4 linked regions of the Homo sapiens genome follow. The protein of the gene in region 3 purifies or fractionates together with the protein of the main gene of each other region. This does not show direct contact. Each region holds a gene or a part of one and is shown on either strand. Other genes may lie near its edges.

Region 1 (3,500 bases), on a different chromosome or scaffold from region 3:
ATATATTCTACATGATGGTGGTTTCCTTTGGCTAGACAATATGAAATGCAGTAAGATGAAAACATTTTCAGAAATCCTTTCCAAACACAATAAACTGATAAATTAACAAAGTAAAAATGATTACCTATCTCCCTTTGGTTTTCTTTTCTGTAGTGTCTTCCCTTTGGGTCTTCTTTCACTTCCTAAACAGGGGCTCCCACCAGGTCCTGTTACCCGTATTGACTCAAGGCCTTTGGAAGATTTTTTAAATGTGAATTCCACTGGTTCTCCTTCTTTTAGGCTTCTAAATCCTTCCATGAATAGTTTGCTCTGTAAAGAGCAGAAGAGGGTGGGGGAGAAAAAGAGAGATTAAAATTATCATTGCTTTATAAATTATCTCTATAATTTTAAAAAAGAAAGATACTCTGTCATGCATTACAAAAGTATAAAGTCTTAAGTTCAGTGAAACATATACCATTTTAAAGTTTCTTTTTGCAATACTGGCAGTGGGAGAAAAAAATTTTTAAGGCAATTTGGCAATACTTAGAAAAATTAAAATGTGCATATTCTTTGTCCCAGCAATTCCACAATTAATAATTCTACTACAGACATACACAAAGGCTCAAAAAGATACCACAGCACTGATTGGTAAAAAATAATTACATCTATCTGAACATCTATCAATGGGAAACTGATTAAATAAATTATTAATATAATAGCACCATATAACATTATTAAGCCATTAAGAGAAGTTTTATTAGTTCTACATGTTCTAATGTAGAAAGATAAGCATGTCATATTGTTGAGTTAAAAAAAAAAAGAGTTAAAGAACTGTGTCTACCATAATGCTATCTATGTAAAATTTTAATTTTGTTTATTTATTTTTGATATGGGACTCACTATGTTGCCCAAGCTGGTCTTGAACTTCTGGGATTTTCTAGCCTCAGCCTTCTGAGTAGCTGAGATAACAGGCACATGCAGAGTCCAGCTAAAGTTTTTAAAAGATATATGTTTATTATATAGAGATGTGGTCTGAAACAACAGACACTAAAGAGTCGTTTTCTCCAGTCCCGTTCTAGAAAGGTAGCAAAGTTTTCTGGTATATACATTACTGCGTCGTTTGAGCTTTTTATAATTTGAAAGGAAATCAGATTTCATATTTGAAAGATAGCTGATTTTTTGTAAAAATAACAATGTTCACCAATTACAAAATTGTTGATTTTGGTTTCAAATATTATTTGGCTCTTTCAATCCTCTTTTCATCAAAGTCAATGTGCCAGTTCAAAATATACTAAAAATAATTCAATCAGTAGTTTTATTTATTTTTTCAAACCCCTCTGTGTACATTTTACAGATCTAATTTAGAATATCATGTAGTTTTTAAAGACTCTCCTGAATTGGTGGGGCAACAGAAATAAAACATGATGGTAGAAGTCCTTAGTTCAAGTCCAGTTCTTTAAATAAACTGCTATATTGCTTTGAATAAGCCATTTGCTGTCGTTTCTGTTCATTTGTAAATTCAAAAGATTTGAGTTCTGAGTAACAACAAGACCACGAGAAAAAGGTTTTGTGGTCAAGTAAGTTTGTAAAACACTGTATGTTGTTTCTCTGTGAGAGACTCATATTAGCATATTAAAGTCTCAGGAATGTTCTCACCTCCCCAACTCCCACAAAACTAAAAATCTTTTTTAACTCAGCAGTTTCCTGACCTAATTGATCCCAGAGCCCCTTCTTTAAGTACAGATGACGAACATACTTAGAGAAATATTGGACCAGAAAATCTTCAATTCTCCAAGTCCATGACTCTAAAGGCAGCTAAATAATTACATGTAGCCAAATTATTACATAGAATAAATAAAAACAAAACTTCAAAAATTCATTGCAAAAGGAGACCATTCATTGTGAAAGCAAGACAGCCCATGAAAACAGGGTTATTAACCTGCTTCTAGTGCAGGTCACCTGGCATAGTGAAATCTTTCATGTGGAAGTCTGCAATTTGGCAGCACCTTTTCTGCTCTCTGATGAAATGTTGGGGGAAAAAATCACAACTGCCTACATTCTTTAAAATAATAAAGTATTATTATTAAAGCTATTTTAACATTTCTAAAGCATCTTCTCATTTTTTCCTAAGCTTTCTCTTCACTAATTATAAATAGTTATTTTGCTTTCATTTCCTTTCTCCCTCTCCACTCAAGAAGGTACAGATTATTTCTCTTTTACAGATGAAATGGAGCATAGTTCAGCTACTGAAATTATGAGAACAAAGAAACAGCATTTTTTATTAGAGCTATCATATGTTCATATGTTTTGTTTTGGCAACAAAAACTCTATCACTGGGCTAAGCGCGGTAGCTCACACCTGTAATCCCAGCACTTTGGGAGGCCAAGGCGGGCAGATCACCTGAGGTCAGGAGTTCAAGACCAGCCTGGCCAACGTGGCAAAACCCCGTCTCTACTAAAAAAATACAAAAAATTAGCCAGGTGTGGTGGCGCTCGCCTGTAATCCCAGCTACTTGGGAGGCTGAGGCAGAAGAATCAGTTGAACCTGGGAGGCGGAGGTTGCAGTGAGCGGAGATCGAGATCGTGTCACTGCACTCCAGCCTGGGCAATGGAGTGGAAACCCTGTCTCAAAAAAAAACAACCAAACAAACAAACAAAACTCTATCACTTAACTCCTCATAGCTCTTAAGTGCACTTTTGTAGGAGTTGGTGCATAGTTCCTAGTGAACTCAATTAAGCTGGTATACTTTCACTTAATTTAATTTTCCATTATTATGATTTTTGATAGGTATCTTATAAGTGAACTGCTTTTCCAAATCTAAAGTAAAATTCCAGCTCTTACAAACTAATAAATTCTAGCTGTTGTTCATGATATTCTGAAAGAATACTTTAAAAAGTTCTATCATATATGTCCCCCTCCCCAAATTAGTCCATAAGGCAATTTAGTTTCATAATACTTGGCAAAAAAATATATATATATTATATATTTTATATATATAAAATATATAATATATATTATATATTTTATATATATAATATATATAATATATATTATATATATTATATATATATATAGGTTATATATTATATATATTATATAATATAATTATATATATTATATAATATAATTATATATATTATATATAATATAATTATATATATTATATATAATATAATTATATATATTATATATAATATAATTATATATATTATATATAATATAATTATATATATTATATATAATATAATTATATATATTATATATAATATAATTATATATATTATATATAATATAATTATATATATTATATATAATATAATTATATATAAATATATATATTATTTATATATATAATAATAAATAATAATTATATATAAATAATATATAATATAATATATATTATATATATATATATATCCATAAGAAACTATAATGGCTTTGCAAGAAAAAGACAAGAATTCACACAGAATACTCTGTCTTTGCTATTAGACCAAAATAGCTGCTACATAGGTGGAAAAGAT
Region 2 (2,866 bases), on a different chromosome or scaffold from region 3:
ATGCCCGGCCATTGACAGTTCTTTAGAGCAGTTGATACGGATCTTTCTTATGTAATTACAGCAGTTTGTACTGAGAAATAAGCAAGAATTGAGCTTTGGTAAGGAGGGTTCCGAAGTCAAGGAACATGAAATAATTGTGGAGGTGAGGTGAGAAGAGAGGGGGATCCTGAAAATTAACTGCTGGACTTAGAGATGATTAACAAGTGGCTCCCAGGAGTTATGCCAAATACTTGTTTTGTTTTGTTTTGTTTTGTTTTGAGTTGAAGTCTTGCTCCTGTCCCCAAGGCTGGAGTGCAATGGCGTGATCTCGGCTCACTGCAACCACCGCCTCCCGGGTTCAAGCAATTCTCCTGCCTCAGCCTCCCGGGTAGCTGGGGTTGGGTTACAGGCGCCTACCACCATGCCCGGCTAATTTTTGTATTTTTAGTAGAGACAGGGTTTTACCATGTTGGCCAGGCTGGTCTAGAACTCTTGACCTCAGGCGATCCACCTGCCTCAGCCTCCCAAAGTGCTGGGATTACAGACATGAACCACTGCGCCTGGCCTTTTTTTTTTTTTTTTTTTTTAAACTAGGCTTTATTGCTATTGCTTTTTTCCTTTGAACTTTATTTTGAAATACAGAGTTGAAAGAATAGTATTATGAACACTTAAACTTTTGACCTAGATTCACTAATTGTTACTATTTTGCTGTTATATATTTGCTTTCTCTTTTTTCTGTGTTGAAAAGAAGTTGCAGATATCCTGAATGATACTTTACCGCTAAGTACTTAGGAGATACATGCCAAAGAAAGTGGGATATTCGCCTATAGAACCACAGTGATCACATTAGAGAAATTCCACTGCCACAGTAATATCTAATATGGTGCATATTTATATCTCCACATTTGTCTCAGCGTCCTTCATTTTCAACTCAGGGCAGAATCCTGTTACTCCCTGCATTTAGTTGTCAAGTCTCTTTAGTCTCCTTTGATCTATAACCGTTCCTTTGCCCATATCCCCTTTTTTTTCCCTTCCATGGCCAGTTGTTTTATAGAATATCCTACAGTTTGGACTTGTTTGATTTCTCATGAATGGATTCAGGTTACATTTAAACATTTTGGTAAGAATAAGACATAGGTGACATTTTGATTACCTTTTAAGAGTAAAACAATTCACATGTCAAACTATTTGGATACTGTCTCAGTCCATTTGTGTGGGTATAAAAGATTACCCGACGCCGAGTCATTTATCAAAAAAAAAAAAAAAGTTTATTTGGCTCATGACTCTGCTGGCTGGAGGACTGGGCATCTGGTGAGTGCCTCAGGCTGCTTCCACTCATGGTACACGAAGTGAAGGGGTCCCTGCTTGTGAAGAGATCACATGGCTAAAGAGGAAGCAAGGAGGGGAGGAGGTGCCAGGCCGTTTTAAACAACCGTGTTCCTGTGCCCAGTTTCAAAATAGCCTTCAGCCAAGCTATTGAAGCAGCCTTTGTGAAACTGGACACACCAGCTACTTCAGATCCCTTCTGTGGTAAGGGCAGAGGCTGGAGTGCCCAGGGTTGTCAAACACACATGTACTGCCATTCCCACTGGGATCCAGTGGCAGACATCACTCATCAGCTCTTTCAGGAATGAATGCGAGAATAGGTCTCCCATCCCCCAGGGAGGGCATTAATCTGTTCATGAGGGGTCCACCCCCATGACCCATACATCTCCCATTAGGTCCCCACTTCCAGCATTGGGGATCAGATTTTAACATGAGGCTTGGGAGGGTCAAATGTCTAAACCGTAGGAGACCCAAACTCCTAGAGACAAAGGGAGAAGTTCACCAAAGTGGAACATAATGAAGAAAGGTTATTTAATGAAATCGGCATCTGCCAACACAAACTCATCTTGAGTAATAGGCATTCCTCACTTTGGAATATATGATTTAAGGACAAGGCATCCCTGCTTGAACCCCATGGGGTTTGTCTCTTGATATTTTTCCAGGAATAAAATGTTCTCTGCCTTTTAAGTGGCATATTTGCAGTTGGGGCTCATAGTGGCCTTCAGCAGTTACAAAGCTGGCCTTGGCCAAGTGGAATGAAAATTCCTCAGGGGCATGAGGATTGTTCTGATTTTATTGTCCTTGCAGGAATTTTACTGGCCTGTGGTTGGATCTGAAAGTTAATGATGAAGGAGCTATTGGAAAAGCAGACTAAAAGGTAGTGAGGGGCTGTTGAAGCGGTGTCAGGAGAGAGTTTAGTTAGTTTTCATGGCTTTAGGTAACTGAAGTTTAGTAGCCATGTGGTTTAAAACTGGAGGGTACTTGGCTGGGCACGGTGTCTCATGCCTGTAATCCCAGCACTTTGGGAGGCCAAGGCGGGCAGATCACCTGAGGTCAGGAGTTCGAGACCAGCCTGACCAACATGGAGAAACCCCGTCTTTACTAAAAATACAAAAATTAGCCGGGCGTGGTGGTGCATGCCTATAATCCCAGCTACTCAGGAGGATGAGGCAGGAGAATCACTTGAAGCTGGGAGGCAGAGGTTGCGGTAAGCCAAGATTTGCGCCATTGCACTCCAGCCTGGGCAACAAGAGCGAAACTCCATCTCGAACAAAACAAAAAAAACTGGAGGGTACTAGGCCGGGCACAGTGGCTCACGCCTATAATCCCAGCACTTTGGGAGGCCAAGGTGAGGGATTAACTGAGGTCAAGAGTTCAGGACCAGCCTGGCCAACATGGTGAAACCCCGTCTCTACTAAAAAAAAAAAAATCCAAAAATTAGCCAGGCGGGTGCCTGTAATCCCAGCTACTTGGGAGGCTGAGACAGAATTGCTTGAACCTGGGAGGCACAGGTCACAGTGAGCCAATATTGTGCCATTGCACGCCAGCCTGGGCAACAAGA
Region 3 (4,223 bases):
CATGTGCTGAATGTGCAGGTTTGTTACATAGGTATACATGTGCCCTGGTGGTTTGCTGCACCTATCAACTCATCAGCTAGGTTTTAAGCCCTGCATGCATTAGATATTAGTCCTAATGCTCTTCCTTTCCTTTCCCCCTAATCCCTGACAGGCCCCTGTGTGTGATGTTCCCCCGCTATGTCCATGTGTTCTCATTTTTCAACTGCCAGTTATGAGTGAGAACATGTAGTGTTTGGTTTTCTGTTCCTGTGTTAGTTTGCTGAGGATGATGGTTTCCAGCTTCATCGATGTCCCCGCAAAGGACATGAACTTACTCTTTTTTTATGGCTGCACAATAAACATAATTTTATTTTTACTTCAGTTTTTCCTGGAGAATCAAAGAGAGGGACACCTCCTGTTTTTTATGAAACTAGTATAACTTCGCTACCTAACTCAGATAAAGAAGATATTAGAAATGAAAATTATGGGTTTATCTTACTTATGATCATAGATGTAATATGCTAAATAAAATAAAAAATTAGGTCACATTTAAACTGGGTTTTCCCAAGAATAAAGGATTATTGAAAATAAAAGAATCTCTTTTTTTTTTTTTTCTTTAAATGAGAAGGAGTCAGCATTCTCATATTTGGATGAGGGCCTTTGGTTTGGTGCTGATTCATCTCTGGCCTGGTATTTACCACAAGGGAAAGGATAGACCTTGACCTGAAAGTGGATGACTCCCATGGCCTTAGTGCACTTTTTGTTCACAGAAGTGAGCAACAAGGACCAATGGTTCTTTCTTATACATTAAATGCAGCAGGATGTATGACAGAGCATGCCTCCATTTGTGTACTAGTGTGGATATAGTTTATTTTTCAACTTTTGAGTTCAGAGGTACATGTGCAGGTTTGTTACATAGGTAAGCATGAGTCAAGGGGGTTTGTTGTACAGATTATTTCATCACCCAGGATTAATCCTAGTACCCATTATTTTTCTTAATCCTCTCCCTCCTCCCATCCTTTACCCTCTGATAGACCCCAGTGCCTGTTGTTCACCTCTATGTGTCCATGTGTTTTCATCATTTAGCTCCTACTTACAAATGTGAGCATGCAGTATTTGGATTTCTGTTCTTGGGTTAGTTTGCTAAGGATAATGGCCTTCAGCTCCATCTGTGTTCCTGCAAAGGACATGGTCTCATTCTTTTGTATGGCTGCATAGTATTCCATGGTGTATATGTAGTACCACATTTTATTTATCCAGTCTACCATGGATCATAACAAGTTTTATAAGGCAGAGTCTATTTTAACACCTGGCACCTATATAACAGATGAGGCAATTAAAGCCTAGAGATGTTAAGTAATTTTCCTGAGATCACACAGCTAGCAAGTGGCAGAGCCAGGATTTGAACACAGTTAATACTTAACTAATTATTTTTTGATGTTCACATCAAGTTCATAGCAGTGTAGTAGGTGCTCTGAGGAGTTAGAACAGAAATATTGGATAGATCTCATCTTCAATTTAGCTTATAGTTCATTAAGACCAGAAAAATAGGCTGGGCGCAGTGGCTCATGCTGGTAATCCCAGCACTTTGGGAGGCCGAGGTGGGTGGATCACCTGAGGTCAGGAGTTCCAGACCAGCCTGACTAATATGGTGAAACCCCATCTCTCCTAAAAATACAAAAATTAGCCATGCATGGTGGCGGGCGGCTGTAGTCCCAGCTACTGGGGAGACTGAGACAGGAGAACTGCTTGAACCCAGGAGGCGGAGGTTGCAGTGAGCCGAGATCGTGCCACTGCACTCCAGCCTGGGTAGCAAAGCAAGACTCTGTCTCAAAAAAAAAAAAAGAAAAAAAACCCAGAAAAATAAATTTACTGTAGGCATAGTGACCATGCCTTGAAAGCAAAAAGCAAGACTCTGTCTCAAAAAAAAAAAAAAAAAGAAAAACCCAGAAAAATAAATTTACTATAGGCATAGTGACCATACCTTGAAAGCAGCTGTGCTCAGTTTGGCGACAACATGAAGTGAACTGGTTGGTTTATTAGTTTTTAGGTAATCATAAAAAAGTACAAATTAGTATGATGCAAACTTTACTACATTTCCAATTCTGTATTACAGTATTGGGGAGAAAGTGGTTTGGAGCTAGATCTTTGCATCTGTCTGCCTAATGGAAATATAAATTAAGGGAATATAAAATTAAGTACTTATTAGGCATCAAATGAATGCCTGTTTTTTTTGTTTTTTGTTTTTTTTTTTTTTGGTGGTGGTTGTTGTTTGTTTTTAAGAGACTCCTGGTGTCTGTGAGCTTTTTAAGCAGTCATTTGAGATTTGGGCTCTTCAGCTGATCTTTTAAACTGTTCTTAGATTTACAAGTAGGGAATATTGAAGCATATGTTTGTATTTGATTTAAATGTTTAGTAACATCCTTTTAAATTAGTAAATTGATTAATGTTAACATTGTGTCAAATTTGATTACTTATAGCATCATTTTTCTTTCAAAGGAAGAAGCCATTGAAATGCCAAAATGCATCGGTTACTTTTATTTTTCGAAAGTTAGGTGTTATGATGCTCTCAACTGTAATTTTATTACATTTACTTTTATATTTCAAAATTGCATATGGGGTTTACCTTTTATTTAAAAAACTCTTGTGAATTTCACTTAGCTAGCATCTTTTCCACATGTGCAGCTAGTTTTTAGTTAATTTTGCTTTGTATAAAAGATTCCTGTGTTTATCATCAAACCATAGTTTCGGTTATCTTGGAATGAAAGCATAATAAGGAGTTCTCAATTTGTTAGTTTACGTAGTATGACAAATTTCTACTGTATTTAATGTTTCCATCCTCACAACAATGAGGTGAATATTTTACCAAAAATTTCATTAATCCTTTTATGATATATCAGTGTCACTGTGGTGCTGACTGTGGTAGGAATAATCAGTAAAAGCACAAGTAGACTCCTTTACTAAAACATAAAAATGATCAAGTTGATATTATCTTTCCATTCTACCATATGTGCTCAAACTGAATTCAGTAAATTTTAAATGGTAATGGCTAAGTAGTCCCACCTGCTTATTATGAGGTTTTTTTTAATACCTAAATGCTATATTAGGTAACCTATGTTAGGAAGGTTTCAATCTAACTTATTATTTCAGTTGTGAGCTTGTTGAGAAAGGGTATATTTTACTCCATTTTGTATTCCTGGCTTCTACCACAGTGCCTGGCATAAAGTCAGTGTTTAGTTAATAGATGATAAATGATTGAGTGAATGAATAAAATACAATTAAAGGTGAAATATAGCAAAACCTTTCTGAGATGATTTTTAAGAAAATTAAAGCATCTTTGAGTTCTTAAAAATATGAAGTTTTTAAAATTAACAATTGTACAGTGTCAGAGAAGTAAAATGATTTGCCGTTGATCATGTAACTGCTTGAAAGTTTATTACTAGCTGAATACTAGCCTCCTACCATTTGCTCTGGTGCTCAGTTCAGCTCACTTCCTGCCTTTTGTAGTTAAAATTTTATGAAATGAACATCACAGAAGGGGAATGAATTATTGAGTCTATAATGACTGTCCTTTAGTTTCAGAAAGGTCCGTGGGAAAAGAACCTATTATAGAGAACATTTATGGAATTCAATAATTTGAATTTATCATGGAAATAAGTAAAACTTCTAGATCAGGTTAAATTTTATTTCATCTTTATAGCATCATTTTAAGTACCACCAAGTACTTTTTAAGGAGTAAATAACAACCTAGAAAGCTTAAAATTCATTGAAATATTCAATAAGGAGTTTCCAGAAATCAAAAACCTTGATAAATTGGAAGCCTCACTTAGAAAACTTATATGCTAAAACTGTATAGGTTAATCCCCAGTTTGATATCACTCTTATGGTGAAGATACTGTTGATAAAATTTACATCTAATGAAAATTAGAAAAATTATAAAATTTGCTTTGTAAATTATAAATTTTTCATTGTATTTATGGCTCTGTTGATTATTTCTATAATAGTGACATTAACAAATGGCAAAACATTTTATGAAATATTTTGGGTAACTTAAAATTTAAGAAATAGTATTGTTTCTGACTATAATAATAGTTTTCATTTATTTAGAGTCTACTCTGCAACAGATACTGCACTTTGCATGTATTATCTTAATCATATGAATAATCCTTTGAGATATATATTACTATTGTGTTGGGCTCAGAGCCATTAAGTAGTTTACCTGTAGTGCCACAACTAGTAAGTGG
Region 4 (3,500 bases), 8.5 Mb from region 3:
CTGGGCTTAAGACCACCCTGATCCACTGTGATTCCACATAATTTAATCTGCAAAGACTTTGTTTCCAAATAAGTTCACATTCTGAGTTTCCAGGTGGATGTGAATTTTGAGGGGACGCGATTCAACCTAGTACACAAGGTAATTAAATAGCAGATGGTCCTGGCACAGGATTTGCACCAGGTGTAATTTAAATAGATTATTCTTTGAGTGACATTACTCACATAAATCCTACAAACAGAATAGCTTGCATACTGCCATCATCTTGTTTTTATTTTGGTATTCGTACATTTATAATACTGGGTTGGAAATGTCTTATATTTGACTGTTCACAATGAAGGGTAAATTTAGGATAAAGACATTTGAAACTGGTTGTTTTACTTTCACACACTAGTGAAATTTATTCACTTGCTTTATTAAATGTGTATTGGGTGCCTACTATTATTACCAGTCACTATTCTAGGCACTGAATCTACAGCAATGAGGCAAACAAAGTCTCTGCTTTGCAGATATGAAAACATCTACACTGCCATGCAGTGGTAAGTGATGTGAAGTAAATAGTGATGGGAAGTGTTGTGCTAGTTGAGATGACATTTAAGCAGAGACCTGAATACAGTGAGATGATCAGCCGTGTATATATTTGGGAGTAGAGTATTCCAGGTAAAGAAGAGATTGCAATGGTATGGGCTAAGCATCAGAAAGCAATAAAGCTTAAAGAAGAACAGATATGGAAATAGCATGATTTGATTACATTTTTAAAAATCACCGTGGCTGTTGTGTGGAAAATTGACTGTTGAGAGAGCAAGTTGCAAAGGAGAGTGACCAGGCATAAGTTTAATTATGTTGGTCCAGGTGAGAGGTGTTGGTGATTTAGTCAAAGGTAGTAAGAATAGAAATGGTGAGAAGCGACTGGTTCTGGATATATTTTACATTTGGAACCACAGGGTGTATTGTGAGTTTTGAGGGAAAGACAAATAGTGGGAAAGAATCCTTAGAGTTTTAGGCCTGAGCAACCAGAACAATGGAAATTACATACAATAAGATGGAAAAGCTACAGGAGAAGCAGATTTGTGAGGAAAAATCAAAGAATTCTGTTTTGACAATGTCAAATAGATGTCAGGTTAGGTGGTTTGATGTATCAGCTTAGAGCTCAGGTTGGAGCTGGAGGTCGAAATTTAGATGTTGTCAGCCTTCATACGGCATTTCAAGTCATTAGCCGGCATTATGATTTTTCCAAATTTATAAATATATTGAATACTGTATATAATGTTCCCATTCAGTCTAGGCCCTGAGAACGTGTCAGTGATAGTAGACATTTAAAATAGAAATATAGAGCGTTAGATAATTTCTAGGTCTCTGTTAAATGGAACTTCAAGTATTACAGTAGTCTCACCCAGTTTAGCACTAATATGTTATTTGATTCTTTGATATTAATTTAGTCTTCTTAATTAGATTGTTCAAGCTCTTTGATAGTAAAAACTATGTTCTTTTTTTGATGTTACACATGGTGCTTATCACAATTCTGAGAATATTAAGTATCGTATCCAAAGAATATTTATTAATGATTAAGTGATAATTTTAGTTGTTCAAAGGCAGTAATATTTTTGTCAGGATGATCTTTGTCTTTAGCATGGATTGATTATACAGATATCTTATCTAAGGAGAATATTAACTAGTTCTATTCTCCAACTCTAATTTTAAAGACTATGATAGATTTTATTTTATTCACTTTCAATAGTGTCATTTTTATTTCATTCCCATACGTTTATTATATTTTTAAATTTGCAGCCAGATTCTACTGCAACTGAAAGAGCAATTGCCAGACTAGCAGTACATCCTCTTCTGAAGAAAAAGATAGATGTGCTAAAAGGTATGAATTAAATGACTTTTAAGCCATGTACTTAATGTATTTGTAGACTTTGGATAATGGCTATTCACTTATTTTAACTCTTGAGGTTCTATTATAAATATAAGTTTCTTTCAAATATTTACCAGTGTGGAAGGTGTCTGAAAATACAGAAAGTGTGATCTCTGAAGAAAAACCAAATCTGTATTGTTTAGTAAATTCTAATATGTGAACGTATAATACGTAATATATATCTTTTTATATATAATATATACAAGATAAAGTTGAATAGTTTTTTTAAAATATTGACATAACTCATTAGTTTTGGTTTCGCCACTTAGGAACATAATTTTATATATGTTTATTATAAAATATATCTATAAAATGAAATTTTTTTGTCACATGATACTGAATTTTATGTCTGAAAGCACAGTTTATAATAATGCATTATTATTATATAAATTAAAGTTGCCATTCCCTTTTATTTGTATTCTGTGATGTTTTTACTGTTCTTCATAACTCCAAGACATGAAGAAAACATTTTCTTTTCATTTTCACAATTTAAAATGAATACGTCTGAGCATATCTTATGTTTGGTTTTTAAGAAGTCGAAAGATTTCTTTGTGAATTCAGACCGAGTATATGTATTTAATATCAATTCCAACTGCCCTCTTAAATCTTTTCAAATAATTTTTTAAAATACTGTCCTAAAACAGTCATGTTTTATATGTTTCAGTGCTAAAATGAGTGATGCACTGTTTCTCTTGCAGCTGCTGTACAAGCCTTTAAAGAAGCAAGACAAAATGTTGCTGAAGTTGAGTCATCAAAGAATGCTTCAGAGGACAATCATTCTGAGAATACTTTGTATTCAAATGATAATGGAAGTAATTTACAGCGTGAAGCAACTGTCATCAGTGAGCAAAAAGTCAAAGAAACCAAAATATTGGCGAAGAAACCAATACATAATTCAAAGGAAAAAATAGCAAAGATGGAACATGGACCTAAAGCAGTGACTATTGCAAATTCTCCATCAAAGCCTTCAGAAAAGGATTCTGTAGTTTCCCTTGAGTCCCAGAAGACACCTGCTGACCCAAAACTGAAAACTCTAAGTCAAACCAAAAAAAACAAAGGATCTGATAGCTCACTCTCTGGTAACAGTGATGGCGGAGAAGAATTTTGTGAAGAGGAGAAGGAATATTTTGATGATAGCACAGAAGAAAGGTTTTACAAGCAGTCTTCCATGTCTGAAGATAGTGATAGCGGTGACGACTTCTTCATTGGGAAAGTCAGACGGACACGAAAGAAGGAAAGTAGTTGTCATTCTTCAGTTAAGGAACAAAAACCACTAGAAAAAGTGTTTCTTAAAGAAGATACAGGTGAAACTCATGGGGATACAAGAAATGACAAAATCAAGCCAAGTACAGAAACCAGAAAGTTAGAATCAGTGTTTTTCCACTCTTTATCTGGATCTAAAAGCTCTAGAAGGTAAGATTCTTTTTCTATTCTGAAATAATCATTAGTTCTTTTTTAAAAAGCTATAAATGTCTACTTGTCCATACATGAAGAGACTATAATTCTAGTTTGTACAACCCATCCTGTTTTTAGACATGGCCCTCTCCAAGGTTGTAGTGGGGTATTAGGTACAGATACACATATG

Evidence for each region. The genes of interacting proteins can lie anywhere in the genome.
Region 1: the proteins of YTHDC2 (region 3) and LIN28B purify together in Homo sapiens (co-immunoprecipitation; one large-scale study listed by IntAct). This does not show direct contact.
Region 2: the proteins of YTHDC2 (region 3) and RNF10 purify together in Homo sapiens (co-immunoprecipitation; one large-scale study listed by IntAct). This does not show direct contact.
Region 4: the proteins of YTHDC2 (region 3) and SRFBP1 purify together in Homo sapiens (co-immunoprecipitation; one large-scale study listed by IntAct). This does not show direct contact.

The regions. Positions count from the first base shown.
Region 1 is NC_000006.12:105,023,107-105,026,606, reverse strand, and holds part of LIN28B (protein lin-28 homolog B), read right to left. Parts: intron 310-3,500; coding exon 125-309; intron 1-124. UniProt on the Homo sapiens protein: Suppressor of microRNA (miRNA) biogenesis, including that of let-7 and possibly of miR107, miR-143 and miR-200c.
Region 2 is NC_000012.12:120,572,356-120,575,221, forward strand, and holds part of RNF10 (E3 ubiquitin-protein ligase RNF10), read left to right. Parts: intron 1-2,866. UniProt on the Homo sapiens protein: E3 ubiquitin-protein ligase that catalyzes monoubiquitination of 40S ribosomal proteins RPS2/us5 and RPS3/us3 in response to ribosome stalling.
Region 3 is NC_000005.10:113,519,920-113,524,142, forward strand, and holds part of YTHDC2 (3'-5' RNA helicase YTHDC2), read left to right. Parts: intron 1-4,223. UniProt on the Homo sapiens protein: 3'-5' RNA helicase that plays a key role in the male and female germline by promoting transition from mitotic to meiotic divisions in stem cells.
Region 4 is NC_000005.10:122,017,475-122,020,974, forward strand, and holds part of SRFBP1 (serum response factor-binding protein 1), read left to right. Parts: intron 1-1,785; coding exon 1,786-1,867; intron 1,868-2,613; coding exon 2,614-3,328; intron 3,329-3,500. UniProt on the Homo sapiens protein: May be involved in regulating transcriptional activation of cardiac genes during the aging process. May play a role in biosynthesis and/or processing of SLC2A4 in adipose cells.